Homo sapiens: one gene and its partner. The protein of the gene in region 1 interacts with the protein of each later gene in a pairwise test. Each region holds a gene or a part of one and is shown on either strand. Other genes may lie near its edges. The genes, in order: CYB5R2 and ZNF778.

What was found.
Region 2: the proteins of CYB5R2 (region 1) and ZNF778 interact in binary tests that used the Homo sapiens proteins (3 or more experiments, as listed by UniProt).

What each region holds. Positions count from the first base shown.
Region 1 is NC_000011.10:7,659,403-7,670,737, reverse strand, and holds the end of CYB5R2 (NADH-cytochrome b5 reductase 2), read left to right. Parts: intron 1-1,006; coding exon 1,007-1,113; intron 1,114-1,403; coding exon 1,404-1,533; intron 1,534-2,176; coding exon 2,177-2,260; intron 2,261-2,924; coding exon 2,925-3,010; intron 3,011-3,433; exon of another isoform or gene 3,434-4,126; coding exon of another isoform or gene 4,127-4,183; intron 4,184-4,187; coding exon 4,188-4,287; coding exon of another isoform or gene 4,288-4,351; intron 4,352-4,798; coding exon of another isoform or gene 4,799-4,898; exon of another isoform or gene 4,899-4,911; intron 4,912-5,191; coding exon 5,192-5,364; 3' UTR 5,365-5,634; downstream 5,635-11,335. UniProt on the Homo sapiens protein: NADH-cytochrome b5 reductases are involved in desaturation and elongation of fatty acids, cholesterol biosynthesis, drug metabolism, and, in erythrocyte, methemoglobin reduction.
Region 2 is NC_000016.10:89,225,721-89,238,158, reverse strand, and holds the end of ZNF778 (zinc finger protein 778), read right to left. Parts: intron 11,466-12,438; coding exon 9,597-11,465; 3' UTR 1,018-9,596; downstream 1-1,017. UniProt on the Homo sapiens protein: May be involved in transcriptional regulation.

The DNA of each region.
Region 1 (11,335 bases):
ACAGGTCGTAGCTGCCCAGTGTGTCATCTGACAGTGGGATGTAGTCATGATCCATAGGTCTCTGGCCACACCTGGTTTATTGAATTCTACCCAGGAAGGGCAGAGTTACATGGTTAAAAACTTCACTGCTACTCCTCACAAGGCCATAGGCCAGGAAGACATGATATTGTTGTTTCATTTGCTCCATGGGTACCCAAATCCTAGGGCCCTGTAGTATCTGTGAGCCCAGGCCTGCTCTGTGCCTAGTACCAGGATACAGATGGAGTAGTTGTAATTTATTCACAGATCTCAGTGATACATCCAGTTTAGGAAGAAAGGAGTTTGTGAAGGCCACATATTTTTCTTGAATAGACAAATATTCCTTTCTAATTTTTTTTTTTTTTTTGAGACAGGGTCTCATTCTGTCGTCCAGGCTGGAATGCAGTGGCACAGTCTCAGCTCACTGCAGCCTCGACCTCCTGGGCTCAGGTGATGCTCCCACCTCAGCCTCCCAAGTAGCTGAGACTGTGGGTGTGCACCACCACACCTGGCTAATTTTTTGTATTTTTTTGTAGAGATGGGGTTTCGCCATCTTGCCCAGGCTGGTCTCGAACTCCTGAGCTCAAGCAATCCACCCGCCTCTGGGCTGGGATTACAGGCGTGAGCTACCATGTCTGACCCCTTTCTGTAATTTTTAATACTCACTCTCCAACTTTAATGATCTTTTCCTGCTCCAAAAAGCAGTTACACTAAGATCACAGGTGGGCAGACATATCACCCCCATTTTACAGATGAAGAGACCAAAACCCAGAGAGGTGAAGTGACTTGCCTAGGGTAGCACAGGGAGGCAGGGCAGGCCTAGGATCCGGGCATCCCATATTTGGGTTCCTTCCCTGCTCTCTTCTTCCCACCCCTCTTAACATTGTGCCCCCAGTATTTGCTCCCTTCACTGAAGCTCAGTCCTTTATTCCTGGGCCTTATTTAAGCTAAATATGCTTTGACTCAGTGCTTGATGCCTTTTCTATAGGTAACTATGTCCAGCTCTTGGCAAAAATCGATAATGAATTGGTGGTCAGGGCTTACACCCCTGTCTCCAGTGATGATGACAGAGGCTTTGTGGACCTAATTATAAAGGTAAATAGTGCCCACCATATCTGGCTAGCTCGTGCTTCCAAGCCTACTGAGGGTGGTGGGGTGGAGGGGCAGTGCTTTTTCTCTGAGGGCACATATGCCCTAGGCAGGGCTTTCCAGCAGTGAAGCTACAGTTAACCTTGTGGCAGCTTCATCTTCAGGGATTGCGTACAACAATTCAGAGAGGAGAACACTTTCTCTGCAAAGCTTCCAGCAGTAAATGCATTTTCTAGTTGTACGTGGCTGTGGCATTGTGTCTGGGAATGTGAAAGCAGTGCTGCCTTGCTTTTCAGATCTACTTCAAAAATGTACACCCCCAATATCCTGAAGGTGGGAAGATGACTCAGTATTTGGAGAACATGAAAATCGGGGAGACCATCTTTTTTCGAGGGCCAAGGGGACGCTTGTTTTACCATGGGCCAGGTACTGGAGGGGTTAATACTTGGGCTCCCAGCTGGGAGGAAGATTCCTGCAATGGTTCCATTGTTCTCGTACACTCCTCAGATTTGAGTCACATGGGGTTGTCCTTAGTCTTCATTCATTCACACACAATGCATAATGATCACACTTGTTACACATTCACACACCCACTTCATGAGGTTGTCAGCTTTTGTAAGGTAGGGGAATGACTTGGTGTTTCCTCGTCATTGTATCAAAATCTCCAGCACAATGCCTGATACATAAATGGTGCCTGCTAATACTGAAAAATGGATGGAGGGAGTCCATGCTCCTTGGTTACTCACATAGCCATTGTTTACTCACTGGTTCACCTCCGTGAGTGAGAATGCTCTTTGAGTCTCTGTGTTAACTTCAGCTTGCCCCTCTTTTTCCTCAGAACAGAAGGCCCGGCGATTCCCCGACCAAGCCCAGGCTCTATTCCCACTTTGTGCACTGGAGCACCAGGGCTAGCTGAGGAGACTGCCCTGGCCTGCTTCTCCAGCTTAAAATGGTGCAGACAGTCCCTTAGCTGGACGTGCCTCCTGGGAGTCCTAAGGAATGTCAGTGATCTTTTGCAGTCTCTTTAGGCAAGAACTGCAGAGGTCATAAGCATTCTCTGTGTTTCCAGGGAATCTTGGAATCAGACCAGACCAGACGAGTGAGCCTAAAAAAACACTGGCCGATCACCTGGGAATGATTGCTGGGGGCACAGGTAAGAGGCTTCTAGGGGCTCCATCCAGAGAGTGAGCCCCGAGACCCATTCTGACTTGGGAGTCATTTGATCCTCTAAGGGACAACATGAGAGATTTCGCCTCCAGCTGTAGAAGGTGGGAACGATGAACCAGTGACAGGTCTTGAAACTGACCCTGTGTACCCTGCTTCCCCTAACCAATATGGTGGCTGCTCAGGAGCCTTGTGGGGACCTTTCAGGTCAGGCTTGGGGGCAAGCTGGGCAGGCCCACCCATGCTGTCCCAGGGGCTCCTAGATCCAGTTCAAGCCTGACTCTCCCCATCCCTTGAAAATGACTGCCTGAAGAAAGAGAGCAGTCTTTGAAGGAGACATACAATGTGCCAGGCACTGTAATAGGCATTCTTAAAACGATCACATTTACCCGTCATTGTTTGATGAATGAGGACACTGAAGAACTTAGAGTGTTCTTTCCATCTTGCCATATGAAAATGAGAAAGACTACCTGACTTACTGTTGCATTAGAAAGGAAAACCAAAATGAAGGGCTGTTTCCTGCTTTGAGTTTTGGGGACAGAAGTGAGAAAAGGATAACTTGGGCTGGGGGAAGGTATGAAGCTTGCTGCAGGTCAGGGACTGTGGGCTTCAGAGACAGGGAGAAAGCTGGCTGCTCGCTCACTGTGTTCCAGGCATCACACCCATGTTGCAGCTCATTCGCCACATCACCAAGGACCCCAGTGACAGGACCAGGATGTCCCTCATCTTTGCCAACCAGGTCAGTTCCTGCTGAGCTTGCAGTGGTAGGATGGAATGTTTGCTGAGCTGGGCTCTTGTTTTCATTTCTCCTGCATTGACTGAGCTCATGCTGCTTGGGTGCCTGCATCTGTGGGAGGGCTTAGTGGGATCAACAGGGCTGCTGGCAGCTGGAGAAGCTGAGTCCAGGCCTGCTTTTTGCATGTATTTAACTCTTTTGTGTCTCCTCAGCCAGCCCTAAGCACTAAGCATTCCTTTTTTCCTTAAGATGTACTGCTGTATTTTTGCTAAGTGTAAAATCACAGATGTCCTCAGTGGACACTTCAGAAAATACAGAATATAAATATTTACTTACTTTTTAAATCTTTTTTCTATATATGTTATATATTTGTAATTTATATATGCTTTTTTTTTTTCACTCAGCATTACCACAACAGGCATTTTCTTCTCTTTAAGATGCTTTATAAATATTTTCATCATAGTTTTTATCAAGTTGCACTATAATTTACTAACTTCCACATTCAGGCTGTTTTCAGTTCTAAATAATATGGTGATGAATAATTGTGCCTACGCTTGATTACTTTTAGATTATTTTCTAAAACAGAATCCCAGAAGTGGAATGACTGGGATGAGAATCATGAGGAGTTTTAAGATCCAGGTCTTCTGTGCAGTTATCTTTGAGGCTGTGACAGGTTATTTTTGGCTTTGGTTCCCTTTCCCCCAAATGGGGCTCCAGACTGTTTTCCTCTCCTTCACATATCCAGTGCTGTTCTATCACAGGACTTTCTGAGCCCATTACATTTCTTCCAGAAGATCCTGGGCCTGCACTGAGCTTGTTCCAGTTAGGTTTGCTGTGCTAGAGCTCAGTGTAGATGTAGGAGGCAGGGCTGGAGCTCCGAGTGAAGCCATCCTGGCCAGCGCTTGGCTAAGGTCCTTCTAGTTGGAGGCGGTCACTGCAGCTCCATGGGAACCTACATCCCATGGAGGTTCTTCATCCACATGGAGGAACTTCATCCACAAAACAAAGGGTTTGAGCTTCAGGAGCAGCAGCAGAACTCTTGTTTGCCGTGGGAGTTGGCAGCGAGCACTCCAGCTGGAGTGGTGGCAGCTTTGGCCAGGAGTATGCTGACCGGTGTAGTCAGTCCAGGGAACAAGAGGATGGCCCTGGAGGGGCTTTTTCAGTGTTGCTTCTTTTCTAGACAGAGGAGGATATCTTGGTCAGAAAAGAGCTTGAAGAAATTGCCAGGACTCACCCAGACCAGTTCAACCTGTGGTACACCCTGGACAGGCCTCCCATTGGTACGACATCCATTGCCCTCACTCACCATGGGTCAGCACCAACCCTTGACCACTTTGAGGACTGGTCTCTGTCTCTTTGTTTTGTTTTAGTTTTGTAGGACCAGATGTGGGGGTTAAGCCTGGGGCTCTGGCTCCAGATGGGAAATGTGAGAAATTGAGGGAGAAAGGATTTGGGATGGCCTGCTTTTAAGGGCAATCGAGAGCAGGTGTCTAATACATCAGCAGCACCTCACGCTGCACTGAACATCAAAAGGGACACTGCCCCTGTCCACTGTGAACACCCACCCATTCCACACAGCCATCACATACACATCTAATATGGGCACTGACCCCTTCACCACTCACCCTTCTGCTTACGGCCACCACACCCCTTACCGCCCACCTCACCTGGACATGCTGAGCCCCCAGACAGCTGCTGCAGCCCAGACAGCATCCCAGCAACCACTGTGCACAGAGCACCCCACAGGCGCGCCTCTCACACTGCTCCCGGCTGTACCTGCTTGTCATACAGGTCCCTGGTCGGCAGAGGGCGCTACCCTACTGAGCAATTCTGCGCAGTTCCACTAACACCAGGCCACACCCTGCCGGACAACTCCAGCTGGCTGTACTGATTCACACACCTCGGTATACCTCGTTGTGTTCTCCTTCCTCGTCAATGCTGACAGCTGACAGACAGCAGCAGGGCTTCAGGGTCCCTGCAGTGAGCCTGGGACCTGGGGTGATTGCTGCAGAGGGCTGTTTACTAGTTCTGAGGCTTTTTGCAGGGAGCAGTAGTACAGACTTCTAAGCCTTTGTAGAGCAGCTTGTCACCTCCTCCCTGGCTGAGGGTGGGTGTGCAGGCGGCCTGGGATCAGGAACTCCACCTGGCATCGCTCAGCTTGCTCCTGCATCTCCTTCATTTCAGGCTGGAAGTACAGCTCAGGCTTCGTTACTGCCGACATGATCAAGGAGCACCTTCCTCCTCCAGCGAAGTCCACGCTCATCCTGGTGTGTGGCCCGCCACCACTAATCCAGACGGCGGCTCACCCTAACCTGGAGAAGCTGGGTTATACCCAGGACATGATTTTCACCTACTAACACCTCCACGTGCTCAGCAATTTTGCATGTCCCTTTTCATCTGTTTCAGAGTAAGTTCAATTTCACCACGGTAAACTGGGATGTTTTCAAAAGTGCCTTGCCATGTACCTTCGCGCACACACTGGTTCTCCTCTTTTGGGTGTGGGCCTAACAAAAAGGGCTCAAGGGGCTGGAGACTGGCTGCTGGGGCCTCCTTGCTTGGAGGCTGGAAAGAGCTCCATTTCAGTATCTTTCTCCGTGGTTTTGTGAAATAAACTCAAGTACAAAGCAGACAGCCCATGAAGTGTGGCTCTGTGGGGGACGTGCTAGGCAGTCAGGAGGCCGTGGCCTGGCCTGTGAGTTGGCTTCTGCATGCCCATGGGGGTCACAACTGGCAAGTGTCGGGGCAGTTCCTAAAAAACTCCAAGTGGGGTCACATCAACTCTCAAGAATCTCTCCATGGCACTAGGGGTCATGGTAGGAGTGGTTACACACAGAAACTTCTCAACTTTCAAAGTCAGGTTCCAGAAACTGCCTTAAATCCTTTGTATCATGAAACCCAAACGAGGGTCTGTCGGGGTGGGGGGGAGGGACAGCCAACCTCACCCATCCCCCTGTTCACTGTCTCCTTGGGGATCCTTCACTGCTTTCAAGGGAGACCCCACTCTGGCCACCCCCATCTCTCCAGGACACACTCCAGGGCCTGGCTCCCAAGGCCCTTCTTGGTTTGCTCCTGCCGACTTTATCAGATTTTTCTTTCCCTGGGCCCCCAACTCCGACCCCATTCTCTCACCTACTGGTTCTCAACTGAGGGTGATTTTGCTGCTCAGGGAACAGATAACAAAGTCCAAAGACATGTTGGTTGTCAGCTACAGAAGGGGTGCATCTACCCTCTATTAGCATTTAGAGGGTAGAGACCAAGGATGCTGCTAAACATCTTAAAACCCACAGGAGAGCCTCCATCACAGAGTATTTCCATCACAGAGTATTACGCAGCCCAAAGTGACAGCAGCACAGAGGCCAGGAAACCCTGCTCTAGCCTACCAACTTTTGGCAATCCCTAGGTTGTACTGGGCTGTTTCAAGTCTGTCTACCTGGAATGCCCTTCCTCTCCGGCATACCTGGGAAAATATGATTCATGTTTCCAAATTCAAGTGTCATCTCTTCCATGGAACCTATTCAGACTCCTTCCCCAAACCCCCATTAAGAATGACAACATGCAAGGGAGGAGCCAAGACGGCCGAATAGGAACAGCTCCGGTCTACAGCTCCCAGCGTGAGCGACGCAGAAGACGGTGATTTCTGCATTTCCATCTGAGGTACCGGGTTCATCTCACTAGGGAGTGCCAGACAGTGGGTGTAGGTCAGTGGGTGCGCGCACCGTGTGCGAGCCGAAGCAGGGCAAGGCATTGCCTCACTTGGGAAGCACAAGGGGTCAGGGAGTTCCCTTTCCGAGTCAAAGAAAGGGGTGACGGACGCACCTGGAAAATCGGGTCACTCCCACCAGAATACTGCGCTTTTCCGACGGGCTTAAAAAACGGCGCACCATGAGATTATATCCCGCACCTGGCTGGGAGGGTCATACGCCCAGGGAGTCTCGCTGATTGCTAGCACAGCAGTCTGAGATCAAACTGCAAGGCAGCAGCGAGGCTGGGGGAGGGGCGCCCGCCATTACCCAGGCTTGCTTAGGTAAACAAAGCAGCCGGGAAGCTCGAACTGGGTGGAGCCCACCACAGCTCAAGGAGGCCTGCCTGCCTCTGTAGGCTCCACCTCTGGGGGCAGGGAACAGACAAACAAAAAGACAGAAGTAACTTCTACAGACTTAAATGTCCCTGTCTGACAGCTTTGAAGAGAGCAGTGGTTCTCCCAGCTCGCAGCTGCAGATCTGAGAACGGGCAGACTGCCTCCTCAAGTGGGTCCCTGACCACTGACCCCTGAGCAGCCTAACTGGGAGGCACCCCCCAGCAGGGGCACACCGACACCTCACACAGCAGGGTATTCCAACAGACCTGCAGCTGAGGGTCCTGTCTGTTAGAAGGAAAACTAACAAACAGAAAGGACATCCACACCAAAAACCCATCTGTACATCACCATCATCAAAGACCAAAAGTAGATAAAACCACAAAGATGGGGAAAAAACAGAACAGAAAAACTGGAAACTCTAAAAAGCAGAGCGCCTCTCCTCCTCCAAAGGAATGCAGCTCCTCACCAACAACAGAACAAAGCTGGATGGAGAATGACTTTGACGAGCTGAGAGAAGAAGGCTTCAGACGATCAAATTACTCTGAGCTACGGGAGGACATTCAAACCAAAGGCAAAGAAGTTGAAAACTTTGAAAAAAATTTAGAAGAATGTATAACTAGAATAACCAATACAGAGAAGTGCTTAAAGGAGCTGATGGAGCTGAAAACCAAGGCTTGAGAACTACGTGAAGAATGCAGAAGCCTCAGGAGCCGATGCGATCAACTGGAAGAAAGGGTATCAGTGATGGAAGATGAAATAAAAGAAATGAAGCGAGAAGGGAAGTTTAGAGAAAAAAGAATAAAAAGAAATGAACAAAGCCTCCAAGAAATATGGGACTATGTGAAAAGACCAAATCTATGTCTGATTGGTGGACCTGAATGTGATGGGGAGAATGGAACCAAGTTGGAGAACACTCTGCAGGATATTATCCAGGAGAACTTCCCCAATCTAGCAAGGCAGGCCAACGTTCAGATTCAGGAAATACAGAGAACGCCAGAAAGATACTCCTCGAGAAGAGCAACTCCAAGACACATAATTGTCAGATTCACCAAAGTTGAAACGAAGGAAAAAATGTTAAGGGCAGCCAGAGAGAAAGGTCGGGTTACCCTCAAAGGGAAGCCCATCAGACTAACAGCGGATCTCTCAGCAGAAACCCTACAAGCCAGAAGAGAGTGGGGGCCAATATTCAACATTCTTAAAGAAAAGAATTTTCAACCCAGAATTTCACATCCAGCCAAACTAAGCTTCATAAGTGAAGGAGAAATAAAACACTTTACAGACAAGCAAATGCTGAGAGATTTTGTCACCACTAGGCCTGCCCTAAAAGAGCTCCTGAAGGAAGTGCTAAACATGGAAAGGAACAACCGGTACCAGTCGCTGCAAAATCATGCCACAATGTAAAGACCATCAAGACTAGGAAGAAACTGCATCAACTAACGAGCAAAATAACCAGCTAACATCATAATGACAGGATCAAATTCACACATAACAATATTAACTTTAAATGTAAATGGACTAAATGCTCCAATTAAAAGACACAGACTGGCAAACTGGATAAAGAGTCAAGACCCATCAGTGTGCTGTATTCAGGAAACCCATCTCACGTGCAGAGACACACATAGGCTCAAAATAAAAGGATGGAGGAAGATCTACCAAGCAAATGGAAAACAAAAAAAGGCAGGGGTTGCAACCCTAGTCTCTGATAAAACAGACTTTAAACCAACAAAGATCAAAAGAGACAAAGAAGGCCATTACATAATGGTAAAGGGATCAATTCAACAAGAGGAGCTAACTATCCTAAATATATATGCACCCAATACAGGAGCACCCAGATTCATAAAGCAAGTCCTGAGTGACCTACAAAGAGACTTAGACTCCCACGCATTAATAATGGGAGACTTTAACACCCCACTGTCAACATTAGACAGATAAACGAGACAAAGTCAACAAAGGATACGCAGGAATTGAACTCAGCTCTGCACCAAGTGGACCTAATAGACATCTACAGAACTCTCCACCCCAAATCAAGAGAATATACATATTTTTCAGCACCACACCACACCTATTCCAAAATTGACCACATAGTTGGAAGTAAAGCTCTCCTCAGCAAATGTAAAAGAACAGAAATTATAACAAACTATCTCTCAGACCACAGTGCAATCAAACTAGAACTCAGGATTAAGAATCTCACTCAAAACCACCCGACTGCATGGAAACTGAACAACCTGCTCCTGAATGACTACTTGGAACATAACGAAATGAAGGCAGAAATAAAGATGTTCTTTGAAACCAACGAGAACAGAGACACAACATACCAGAATCTCTGGGACACATTCAAAGCAGTGTGTAGAGGGAAATTTATAGCACTAAATGCCCACAAGAGAAAGCAGGAAAGATCCAAAATTGACACCCTGACATCACAATTAAAAGAACTAGAAAAGCAAGAGCAAACATATTCAAAAGCTAGCAGAAGGCAAGAAATAACTAAAATCAGAGCAGAACTGAAGGAAATAGAGACACAAAAAACCCTTCAAAAAATTAATGAATCCAGGAGCTGGTTTTTTGAAAGGATTAACAAAATTGATAGACTGCTAGCAAAACTAATAAAGAAAAAAAGAGAGAAGAATCAAATAGACACAATAAAAAATGATACAGGGGATATCACCACCGATCCCACAGAAATACAAACTACCATCAGAGCATACTACAAACACCTCTACGCAAATAAACTAGAAAATCTAGAAGAAATGGATAAATTCCTCGACACATACACTCTCCCAACACTAAACCAGGAAGAAGTTGAATCTCTGAATGCACCAATAACAGGATCTGAAATTGTGGCAATAATCAATAGCTTACCAACCAAAAAGAGTCCAGGACCAGATGGATTCACAGCCGAATTCTACCAGAGGTACAAGGAGGAACTGGTACCATTCCTTCTGAAACTATTCCAATCAATAGAAAAAGAGGGAATCCTCCCTAACTCATTTTATGAGGCCAGCATCATTCTGATACCAAAACCTGGCAGAGACACAACAAAAAAAGAGAATTTTAGACCAATATCCTTGATGAACATTGATGCAAAAATCCTCAATAAAATACTGGCAAAACGAATCCAGCAGCACATCAAAAAGCTTATTCACCATGATCAAGTGGGCTTCATCCCTGGGATGCAAGGCTGGTTTAATAGACGCAAATCAATAAATGTAATCCAGCATATAAACAGAGCCAAGGACAAAAACCACGATTATCTCAATAGATGCAGAAAAAGCCTTTGACAAAATTCAACAACCCTTCATGCTAAAAACTCTCAATAAATTAGGTATTGATGGGACGTATTTCAAAATAATAAGAGCTATCTATGACAAACCCACAGCCAATATCATACTGAATGGGCAAAAACTGGAAGCATTCCCTTTGAAAACGGGCACAAGACAGGGATGCCCTCTCTCACCACTCCTATTCAACACAGTGTTGGAAGTTCTGGCCAGGGCAATTAGGCAGGAGAAGGAAATAAAAGGTATTCAATTAGGAAAAGAGGAAGTCAAATTGTCCCTGTTTGCAGATGACATGATTGTATATCTAGAAAACCCCATTGTCTCAGCCCAAAATCTCCTTCAGCTGATAAGCAACTTCAGCAAAGTCTCAGGATACAAAATCAATGTACAAAAATCACAAGCATTCTTATATACCAACAACAGACAAACAGAGAGCCAAATCATGAGTGAATTCCCATTCACAATTGCTTCAAAGAGAATAAAATACCTAGGAATCCAACTTACAAGGGATGTGAAGGACCTCTTCAAGGAGAACTACAAACCACTGCTCAAGGAAATAAAAGAGGATACAAACAAATGGAAGAACATTCCATGCTCATGGGTAGGAAGAATCAATATCGTCAAAATGGCCATACTGCCCAAGGTAATTTACAGATTCAATGCCATCCCCATCAAGCTACCAATGCCTTTCTTCACAGAATTGGAAAAAACTACTTTAAAGTTCATATGGAACCAAAAAAGAGCCCACATTGCCAAGTCAATCCTAAGCCAAAAGAACAAAGCTGGAGGCATCACACTACCTGACTTCAAACTATACTACAAGGCTACAGTAACCAAAACAGCATGGTACTGGTACCAAAACAGAGATATAGATCAATGGAACAGAACAACAGAGCCCTCAGAAATAACGCCACATATCTACAACTATCTGATCTTTGACAAACCTGAGAAAAACAAGCAATGGGGAAAGGA
Region 2 (12,438 bases), on another chromosome or scaffold:
ACAGACAGGGTTTCGCCATGTTGCCCAGGCTGGTCTTGAACTGCTGGCCTTAAGTGAGCCAGCCACCTCAGCCTCCCAAAGTGTTGGGATTACAGGCATCAGCCACTGCACTCAACACCCTGTGGTAATTTTCTTTGTGCTGAAGTCATTTTTTCTGATGTTAAATACAGCCTCTCCACTTTATTATGTTTACATGGTACTATTAACCTATTTACGTCATTGTATTTGAAGTGTCTTGTAGATGACATACTGATGCGTCACACTTTTTATCTGTCCTATCTTTAAATAGCATGTGTAGATCATATTTTTTTTTTGAGATGAAGTCTTGCTCTGTTGCCCAGTCTGGAGTGCAGTGGCACGATCTTGGCTCATTGCAACCTCCACCTCCTGGGTTCAAATGATTCTCCTGCCTCAGGTTCCTGAGTAGCTGCGACCACAGGCATGAGCCACCAAACCTGGCTAATTTTTGTATTTTTAGTAGAGACAAGGTTTTACCGTGTTGGCCAGGCTGGTCTGGAACTCCTGACCTCAAGTGATCCACCCGCCTCGGCCTCCCAAAGTGCTGGGATTACAGGCGTGAGTGCCCAGCTGATCATGTGCACTAATGTGTTTGATTATCTAGGATTCAGCTCTACCAGTTATTTTTTATTTTTTATTTTAGACAGAGTCTTGCTGTCACCCAGGCTGGAGTACAGTGGCGCGATCTCAGCTCACTGCCACCTCCACCTCCCCGGTTCAAGTGATTCTCCTACCTCAGCCTCCCACGTAGCTCGAATTATAGGCTCCCACCATCACCCCTGGCTAACTTTGTATTTTTAGTAGAGACGGGATTTCACTATGTTGGCCAGACTGGTCTGACTCCTGACCTCAAGTGATCCGCCCGCCTCGGTCTCCCACAGTGCTGGGATGACAGGCCTGAGCCACCGCACCTGGCCACCACTTCGTTACCTACTTGTTCTCTTTTGTTCCCAGTACTCAGTTTCCCCTTTATCACAATTCTTTCAGGCTATTTAACACTTTTTTTAGTAGTATGTTTTAATTAACATATTGGACCATTTTAGTATATCTCATTGTCCTTTTTTTTTTTAGACAGAGTCTTGCTCTGTCACCCAGGCTGGAGTGCCGTGGCACAATCTCGACTGACTGCAACCTCCACCTCCTGGGTTCAAGTGATTCTCCTGCCTCAGCCTCCTGAGAAGCTGAGATTACAGGTGCCCCCAACCACACACAGCTAATTTTTGTATTTCTTAGTAGAGATGGGGTTTCACCATGTTGGCCAAGCTGGTCTCAAACTCCTGACCTCAAGTGATCCACCCACCTCACTCTCCCAAAGTGGTGGGATTACAGGCGTGAGCCACCACACCCAGCTGTACACTTCTTTAGTAATTAAAATATACAGACTTAGCTTTTCCAGTCCTTCTGGAATGGTATTTTGCCACTGAAATGGAGCACGGAACCTCCACGCCGTCCAGCCACGTTGCCCCTCACCTTCATGTTGTAGTTGTCTTATGTATTAAATATACATCAGTTGAAACCCCATGTGATAATTTTTGCTTTTGACAATAATATATATTTTAAAGAACTCAAGAGTAGAATGATCTGATCTATTTACTCAGGTATTTACTCTTCTATTGCTTTTCCTTTGTTCCAGGTTTCCTTAAGAGTTTTCTGTAACCATTTATTTAAACCAGGTCTGCAGGCAATTCTTTGTATTGCCTCATCGTTACTTCTGTTTCATTCCTAAAGGATATTTTGTTGGATATAGCAATCTGGGTTGGCATTTCTTTTTATTTCAGAACTTGAAAAATGCTCCTACATTTCCTGTTGGCCTCTATGGCTTCCGACGAGAAACCCGGTCAATTGAATTGTTCTTCTGGAAGCACTGTGTCCACTTTCTCAGCCTCCTTCCAAGACTTTCACTCTGTAGCTTTCGGCAGCTTCGTGGTGGCAGGGGCTTGGTTTTCTTTTCTTTCTTCTTTTTTGAGACAGAGTCTCGCTCTGTTGCCCAGGCTGGAGTGCAGTGGTGCAATCTCAGCTCACTGCATGCTCTGCCTCCCGGGTTCACGCCATTCTCCTGCCTCAGCCTCCCCAGTAGCTGGGACTGCAGTCGCCCGCCACCACGCCCAACTAAATTTTTGTATTTTTCTTTTTTTTTTTTTTTTTTACTAGAGACGAGGTTTCACTGTGTTGGCCAGGATGGTCATGATCTCCTGACCTTGTGATCCGCCCACCTCGGCCTCCCAAAGTGCTGGGATTACAGGTGTGAGCCACCGCCCCCGGCCTGGGCTTGGTTTTCTTTAGGTTTATCCTGTCTGGGGCTCATGGAACCTCTTCAAACTTAAGTTTTTATCTTACACCAAATATGAGAAATGTTTCATCATTATTTTTTCAAGTGGTTTTACTACATCACACTTTCTCCTTTTCTTCCAGGATACTGAGGTCATGAATGTTAGCCATTTGGTATCATAACACTGCTCCCCAAGGCTGTTGCACATATGCTGAATAATTTAAGATTATAGTCTACACTTCTGAATTTTAGGTTATGACACTCTGGGTCTGTCAGTCCCACGGGTGATGGAGATACTGGTTCATCAGGCGAGTAACCTAGTCAGGTTCAGGAGGCAAGTTCTATTGAAACCATGTGGGTCGTGCTTTCCATGTTGATTCTGTCTTAAAGCCTACGCAGAACTGCTCATGTCTCTTCTCGGGCGAGGCTCGTCCACCTACAGAGTGGTCAACCTCACAGGCCAGCTCCTAAGGCTGATGATGTGTTTGCTGCTGCAGGACTGCCTGGAGGCCAGGGCAAGCGAATGGGAAAAACTAAACTTTCGGATTTTTTCTCTCACAGTGTTAGGACACCTGTTTCCCACTCGTTGTGTGAAAACGGAAGTCAGCATGAGGCCCCGATCTGGAGCCTAGTGGGTGCTGGTGCCAAGCTTCTGGGACCCTCCAGGCCTTCAGAATTGTGAACAAAATAAACCTCTTTTCTTCATTAAAAAAAAGAGGCCTTGCAAAAATTTTTATGTCCATAGTGGGAAAAATGACATTACACTCTACAGATACGGTCAACAAAAATCAACTCCAAATGGATTAAGCAACTTGGGATAAAACATAGAAACTGTGGAAGCCAAAATAGTACAGCATATTTAAGGCCTTAGGAGAAAAGAAATTTCTGATGAAGATAAAGGAAAGGTTGTATAAATTTGAGTATGCCAAAATTAAGAAATATTTTTCCTTTTTTTTTGAGACAGAGTCTCACTCTGTTGCCAGGCTGGAGTGCAGTGGCGCGATCTCGGTTCACTGCAATCTGTGCTTCCCATCTTCAAGCAATTCTCCTGCCTCAGCCTCCCAAGGAGCTGGGATTACAGGCGTGCACCACCACATCTAGCCAATTTTTCTATTTTTAGTAGAGATGGCGTTTCACCATGTTGGCCAGGATGGTCTTGATCTCCTGACCTTGTGATCCACCCACCTCGGCCTCCCAAAGTGTTGGGATTACAGGCCTGAGCCACCACACCTGGCACAATCTTTTTCCTTAAGGCATCATCACAAAAGTGGAAACAGGTGAAGTGGAAACCACTGCAATCTTCTAAGTCACAAGTGGTGACTCACCTCACAACAGCCTCACTATTTCTAAAAAAGAACAAAGATCAAACAAACCAGGAAAAAACAAGACCAGGTACTTCATCCAAAAAGGAAAATAGCCAGCGTAAGCAAAACCATGTTCATACTATCAGTAATGAAGAGAAGTGCAAACCAACACCCCAAGGAGATGCTGTTTCACAACCACTTTGGAAAAAACGTCACTCCCTAAGAAGGTTGAACGAGTAGAGAGAAAGAATAAAACTGCCCAGGAGTCAACATGGCAGTTCCTACAGATAGTTCAAGAATCCCTGGGCTGGGTAAGACCTTGTCACAGACATGTGCTTAGGTAGAGAGACTATGAGGAAAACCACACCACTGGTGGGGCCTAGACGCGGACTCGTCAAGGTGAGTGAGTGACACACACAGGTTCCTGACATGGAAAGTTTATCACTCACAGTGTCAAGAGAAGGCGGCACATCACTCCAGGCAGGGCCCAAGGGGAGCTGCAGAGCTGGGCAGGAGGCAGAAGTCAGAGCCAGGGGAGGCAGAGGCCACAGGGTTTTCACAGGAAAGGCAGGACAGGGCAGGATGAAGTCTGGGGCTGGCTAGTCTGCATACTTCCAGCAGGCCCAAGGGCATACAGCATGTCCTGCTGTCTAGTGCCTCATCCTGGGCTGACTTCAGGGAGGAGAAATACTGGCTTGGTGTGGTAGTTAGAAAAAGGAAGTGGCCGGAAATAAGTACTTGCAACAGTTGAGTTGCATACGCAGTGCGAGCTGAGTTGCATACGCAGTGCGAGTTGAGTTGCATACGCAGTGCGAGTTGAGTTGCATATGCAGTGCGAGTTGAGTTGCATACGCAGTGAGTTGAGTTGCATATGCAGTAAGTTGATTTGCATACGCAGTGCGAGTTGAATTGCATATGCAGAGCGAGCTGAGTTGCATACAGTGTGAGTTGAGTTGCATATGCAGTATGAGTTGAGTTGCGTTGCATATGCAGTGCGAGCTGAGTTGCATATGCAGTGAGTTGATTTGCATACGCAGTGCGAGTTGAGTTGCATACACAGAGCAAGCTGAGTTGCATACGCAGTGTGAGTTGAGTTGCACACGCAGTGCGAGTTGAGTTGCACACGCAGTGCGAGTTGAGTTGCATACGCAGTGCGAGTTGAGTTGCATACGCAGTGCGAGTTGAGTTGCATACGCAGTGCGAGTTGCATACGCAGTGCGAGCTGAGTTGCATACGCAGAGCGAGCTGAGTTGCATACGCAGAGCGAGCTGAGTTGCATACGCAGTGCGAGCTGAGTTGCATACGCAGAGCGAGCTGAGTTGCATACGCAGAGCGAGCTGAGTTGCATACGCAGAGCGAGCTGAGTTGCATACGCAGTGCGAGCTGAGTTGCATACGCAGTGCGAGCTGAGTTGCATACGCAGAGCGAGCTGAGTTGCATACGCAGAGCGAGCTGACTTGCATACGCAGTGCGAGCTGAGTTGCATACGCAGTGCGAGCTGAGTTGCATACGCAGAGCGAGCTGAGTTGCATACGCAGTGCGACTTGAGTTGCATACGCAGAGCGAGCTGGGTTGCATACGCAGAGCGAGCTCAGTTGCATACGCAGAGCGAGCTGAGTTGCATAGGCAGTGAGTGGATTCGCATACGCAGTGCGAGTTGAGTTGCATACGCAGTGCGAGTTGAGTTGCATACGCAGTGCGAGTTGATTTGCATACACGGTGTGAGTTGAGTTGCATATACGGTGTGAGTTGAGTTGCATATGCAGTGAGTTGATGTGCATATGCAGTGAGTTGATTTGTATATGCAGTGCATGTTTCCAGCAAGTTGTTTACCATCTTTAGGAATGATCTAGCCTGAGAGGGACGGTCTAGCCCCCACAGCAAGACCCCAGGATGAAAATGTACCCTAACAAAAAAAAAAAAAACATAATTAATACAATTGGTCCTTTAATATTTTATCTTACTCTGAGGAACCCTCAGACATTGGGAGTGGAGATTTTCACACAGGAGGGCATAAGTTGCCCTAAGTGACACAGAACACGTTCTGAGAGTTAGGAAGAGAAATACAGGTATCTGCCTAACCAGTACTTGCAGTCCTGCCCATAACCCAGTTTTCCATCATGCTTGGTGTCTTAGTCTGTCTGTGTTGCTACATATCTGAGGCTGTGGGTAACTTAGAAAGAGGCTTATTTGGCTCATGGTTCAGCAGGCTGTGCAAGCATAGCACTGGCATCTGACCTGCTTCTGGTGAGGACTATTTGCTGTGTCAAACAGGGCAGAGAAGGTCAAGGGCAGTGAGCCAAACCCGAGGGACGGCTTGGCTTTATCACAACCATGCTCCCAGTAACTAGTGCATTCCCCTACAAACCAATCCAGGCTTGACACAGCAAGAATGAATGGTATCCAACCATTCAGGAGGGTGCCCCCATGACCCAAACCCCCACCAGGCCCCCTCCCAGCACTGCCACACTGAGGGTCAAAGCTCAACATGAGACTTGATGAGGGCAAACCAATCACATCCACATCACAGCATATGGTATTACTCAAGAAAATCACTTTGAAATGTTGGGGGTCCAATGATAATATCCTTGAGGAGTTATAAAGGTGATAAAGGGATGAGTTTGACAATTATCAGGATGGCAGGTCTGTAGTTCTGCTGCAGGAGGGTATGAAGCAAACAGTTAGTATGTGTAAAGAAGAGGCTCTGTGTGAAGCCAAGTCAAGGGAGTAAGGAGATGAGATGGAAAGCTGCAGCGGAGGAGAAGGCACTGGGGAGACAGTGGCCTTCCCAGAGGCTGATAGGAGGCGGGCACCTCCTGGTGAAACAAAACATTTTGGTATCAATTATTGAGACTTCACAGACACTACTAACTCCTACCAGATTTTCCTACAGGCAAGGGGTGCAGGGCTGTGGGTTTTGGTTGAGATTACACCAGGATCACGGGTTAGCGGACAGCAAGCTCAGCTCATCACAGAATCTCAAATATCAAATTTGTGCCTTAGGAACCCCAGTCCATGGGCATCGCTGCTGAGGAGGTTCTGAAGAAGTGCGTGAAGTCACCTCCAGTGAAGGGAGGGGGAGTCGTCGGAGGGGTAGTCGTCTTAATTGAGGTCTGTGCTGGGGTGATGTCTCCACCAACAGTGGGCATATCAGGCAGGGTGGTGTCTGGGCTACCGCCTGCTCAGGATGCTGTCACTAGGAGTCCGAGCACCAGGATGATGCAGTCCTGGCGTCACCTGTGACCCACAAGTTCTGGACTCAGGCAACTGTGAGTCAGTTCTAGCAGAGACCTGCAGGACTTATTTCAGCCAATCAGGATGTCACCTGAGACCAGTCCAGGAGCCGCTACAACCCCACAAGCTGGTTCCCGCTAATCTGATGACCTTTAGTGTCAATGCCAACAATTAAAGGTGGCAACAGATGAGCTAAATAGCCACACTCAATCCCACAAGAGAAACATGGCACAACCCACTCCTCTCCACAACAAACACGTAACATGAAGGTGCATGGCTCTGTCCATCCAGAATTTCAAACACGTGACATGAAGGTGCACAGGTCTGTCCATCCAGGATTTCAAACATGTGACAGGAAGGTGCACGGGTCTGTCCATCCAGAATTTTAAACACGTAACATGAAGGTGCATGGGTCTGTCCATCCAGAATTTCAAACACGTGACATGAAGGTGGACGGGTCTGTCCATCCAGGATTTCAAACACGTAATATGAAGGTGCACGGGTCTGTCCATCCAGGATTTATTGTTCACCTCGTTGTAGATTACCTTTATACCGTGGGGATTCAACACCACAGAAACAGTCACCAAGCAGCTGCTGCCCTGATGGCCACAAAAAACATAACCCAGGATTGCTGCAGCCAGAGGACACACATTCGTGTCACTCACATGAAGTCTTGCTCTGCCACTGTGTGTGTTTAAGGGCCTCATCCAAGAAGCGCCAGTGACAGGGCCAAGCGCCACAGAACATCAGGACCAGCCGTGTCCCTGGTCTGTTTTCATGGTACACAAAGGAGCAGCACACACACAAGCAGCAGCTGCCCCAGGAGTGCCGGGTCGCAGCAGCTGCCCCATGAATGCCGGATCACAGCAGCTGCCTCATCAGTGCCGGATCGCAGCAGCTGCCCCAGGAGTGCCAGATTGCAGCAGCTGCCAGGACCGCTCTGCATGCTGTGAAGAGGATCTGGAGGTCAACAAGGACACTCAGGGCTCTCACCCGTCCGGCACTGCCTAAGGTACAGGAATTCCCTCCTCCCCACGTGGGGGGTGGTGGTTCTCCCTCCACGGCCATGAAACGGGGGCATCTCAGGGTACAGACCTCGCCCCTCTCCACTCTGCCCCTCCTTGCACCCTGGTGTTTTATCTGAAGGGATCAGGTATGGGAGAGGAACAAGGGCATTTTCATAAAATGTAGAGCTGTGTTATGCCCCAACATTGGCCAGTGTGGGACCCTACAGGTGGGTCATGCCTAAGAGCATGACTAACCAACCAGAGCCTACGCTGCTCATACAGGATCCCATCTGGATACTTAAGACTAACCAACCAGAGCCTACACTGCTCACACAGGATCACATCTGGATCCTCAAGACTAACCAACCAGAGCCTACACTGCTCACAGAATCACATCTGGATCCTCAACACTAACCAACCAGAGCCTACGCTGCTCACACAGGATCACATCTGGATCCTCAAGACTAACCAACCAGAGCCTACGCTGCTCACACAGGATCACATCTGGATACCTAAGACTAACCAACCAGAGCCTACACTGCTCACAGAATCACATCTGGATCCTCAAGACTAACCAACCAGAGCCTACGCTGCTCACACAGGATCACATCTGGATCCTCAAGACTAACCAACCAGAGCCTACGCTGCTCACGCAGGATCACATCTGGATCCTCAAGACTAACCAAGCAGAGCCTACGCTGCTCACAGAATCACATCTGGATCCTCAAGACTAACCAACCAGAGCCTACGCTGCTCACAGAATCACATCTGGATCCTCAAGACTAACCAACCAGAGCCTATGCTGCTCACAGAATCACATCTGGATCCTCAAGACTAACCAACCAGAGCCTACGCTGCTCACACAGAATCACATCTGCATCCTCAAGACTAACCAACCAGAGCCTACACTGCTCACAGAATCACATCTGGATCCTCAAGACTAACCAACCAGAGCCTACAGTGCTCACACAAGATCACATCTGGATCCTGAAGACTAACCAACCAGAGCTTACACTGCTCACAGAATCACATCTGGATCCTCAAGACTAACCAACCAGAGCCTACGCTGCTCAAAGAATCACATCTGGATCCTCAAGACTAACCAACCAGAGCCTACACTGCTCACACAGGATCACATCTGAGTCCTCAAGGCCTACTGTTAGCCAGGCTGCGACGTGGACACTGTAGCAACCAGACTGGAGGATTTCTACAGGGAACAGAGTCCTCACTCCAAGAATGATCAGTGCAGCATCATAAAGATTCAAAATACGTCTACAGAACCCCCAGAAAGACATGTCTCAAGTTAGCCCACAAGGTTTTAGAACACAGGGAAGCGACTGCTATCTTCCATACATTCACAACACTTCAAGTGTCAATCACCACGTTTACTAAAGGGTGAGGAAAGATGTAATGTAAAAAATGACTTCCCAACAATTCTCACCCTCCTAAGGTTTTTCTTCATTGTGAGATCACAAGGGATCATCAAAGTACTGAGCAGAACAGCAACAATGCTGCTGCATATCACACATCAATAGAGTTCTCTCTACTGGATACCATCCATATTCAGCAAGACCTTAGAGAACACTGAGGGCTTTCTCTGTGTCTGCTGCATAGGGCTCCAGGGTGAGTTCCTGCCTGCCGGGTTGTGATGAGATGCTGATTGCCTAGCCACATTCCTCAAGTCATGGACATCTGGAGAACGAGAGGTCTTTCATGTCTTCAACGTGAATGAGTGTAGCTGACAGCTTCCCCACATTCTTTACATTAGAAAGGTTTCTCATCAGTGTGAATTTGAGTGTGATGGTTAAGGCATGAGGAATTCTTAAAAGATTTTCCACAGTCCTTACATACAAAAACCTGCTCTTCAGTGTAAGTTTTTAAATGTTCTTTTAGTAGATAAAACCTATTGTATGCTTTCCCACATTCCTTACATTTATAGGGTTTCTGCCCAGTGTGAATTCTTCCATGTTTATGCAGGTGAGAGGAGGCACGGAAGGCTTTCCCACACTCGTTACATATGTAAGGTTTCTCTCCTGTGTGAGTCCTTCTGTGTTCGATAAGGTGTGAGGAGGAAGCAAAGGCTTTCCCACACTCCTTACATATGTAGGGTTTCTCACCGGTGTGGGTTCTTATGTGCACGATAAGGTGTGAGGATGTGGTGAAGGCCTTTCCGCATACTTTACATTCATAAGGTTTCTCTCCAGTGTGAGTTCGTATGTGCTCGGTTAGGCTCGAAGAAACAGTGAATGTTTTCCCACAGTCCTTACATTCATAAGGTTTTATTCCAGTGTGAATCTGAATGTGCTTATTCAGGCACGAGGAATTTCTGAAGGATTTCCTGCATACCGTACATATAAAGGGCTTCTCCTCTGTGTGAGTTTTCACATGCTCATTCAGTAGATAAACCCTATTGTAGGCTTTCCCACAGTCCTTACATTCATAGGGCTTCTCCCCGGTGTGTGTCCGCATGTGTTTAGTGAGGCCTGAGCGCCCTGTGAAGGCTTTGCCACACTGCTTACATTCGTAGGGTTTCTCTCCGGTATGGATTCTCGCGTGCTCAGTCAGGCTTGAAGAAACAGTGAAGGATTTCCCACAATCTTTACATTCATATGGTTTCTCTCCAGTGTGAGTCCTTACATGCTCAGTAAGGCCCGAGGATGTACAGAAGGCTTTCCCGCAGTCCTTACACGTGTATGGCTTCTCGCCCGTGTGTGTTCGTACGTGTCTAGTAAGGCCACAGCGCACAGTGAAGGCCTTCCCACAGTAGCTGCATGTATAGGGTTTTATTCCAGTGTGAATTCGAACATGATTATTAAGGCATGAGGAATTTCTAAAATATTTTCCGCAAACCACACATGCAAAGGGCTTCTCCCTCGTGTGAGTTTTTCCATGCTCATTCAGTAGATAAAACCCACCGCAGGCTTTCCCACAGTCCTTACATTCATAGGGCTTCTGTCCAGGGTCTGTTTGGACGTGTTTAGAAAGACCTGAGAGTCCAGTGAAGGCTTTTCCGCATTCTTTACATTCACAGGGTTTCTCTGCAGCATGAATTCTTACATGTTGAGTTAGGCTGGAAGAAACAGGGGAGGCTTTTCCACATTCTTCCAATTCACAGGGCTTTTCCCCAGGGTGGACTTGCACGCGACCAGTAAGGTAGGCAGTGTACCTAAAGGCCTTCCCACATTCCCTACATACGTGGGGATTCCTGACGGCATGCATTTCAACAGGTGTGGCGCAGCCCATGGAGTGAGTTAGAGCTTTCCCACACGGCTTCCATTTCCATGTTTCTTCTCCGTTGTGACTTCCCGCACGTGCCTGAAGGTATGACTGATTAAGGAACACTTCCCCACAGCTGCTGTAGTCAAGAGATCTGTCCCGAGTGCATGCTTGCTGGGAAACAACATTTGGAGTAGAGCTGAAGGCTTTTCCACACTGACCCAACACGGAAAACTGCTCTCCAATTTTGAACAAGGTTTTCTGGCATGGAATAAAAAAGTCCCTTTCATAATGATTAGACACACAACTGTCTCCTGTATTTTGAGTTCTCACGTGTGTGCTGAGGCCTGAGTGTTCACTGAAAGCTTCTCCACACTGCGTGCGGTCACAGAGCTGCCCTCCATTGTGGCTTCTTGCCTGTTGGTGAAGAATGAGTGGTGGTCAGGGGGTTACTGAGGCTGATTCATAGATCTCACCCAGCTGAAGACAGAGCATGACGATGATGATTACGATTTTTGCCATTTTCATAACATGCAAGCAGCTCCTGCCCTGTAGATGTCTTTCAAGTCAAATGAGGAGCCCCACTGCAAGAATCCTGTGCCATCAGGACGGGCGCAGCAGCTCATGCCTGTAATCCCAGAACTTTGGGAGGCCGAGGCGGGCAGATCACCTGAGGTCGGGAGTTCAAGACCAGCCTGACCAACATGGAGAAACCCCGTCTCTATTAAAAATACAAAATTAACTGGGCATGGTGGCGCATGCCTGTAATCCCAGCTACTCAGGAGGCTGAGGCAGAAGAATGGCTTGAACCAGGGAGGCAGAGGTTGCGGCGAGCTAAGATTGCGCCGTTGCATTCCAGCCTGGGCAACAAGAGCAAAACTCCATGTCAAAAAAAAGAATCGGCCAGGCACAGTGGCTCACGCCTGTAATCCCAGTACTTTGGGAGGCTGAGGTGGGAGGATCACAAAGTCAAGAGATCGAGACCATCCTGGCCAACATGGTGAAACCCCGTCTCTACTAAAAATACACAAATTAGCTGGGCATGGTGGCACATGCCTCTAGTTCCAGCTACTTGGGAGGCTGAGGCAGGACAATCACTTGAATCCAGGAGGCGGAGGTTGCAGTGAGCCAAGATCGTGCCACTGCGCTCCAGCCTGGTGATGGAGTGAGACTTCATCTCAAAAAAAAAAAAAAGAATCCTGCACCATCTGCTCTAACTTCGAAAAGTCTGTGCGCACAAAACAGCTCTGCGATCTCAAGACCTCGTCATGTGTGCGCTGATGTGTGTCTGAAGCACCAAGTTTCAAGACAGGATGAGGTCCTCCCAAATTCCGCACATTCAGAGTGTTCTCTACAGACAACCCCTGCCTGAGTGAATCCTGCTTCTCTA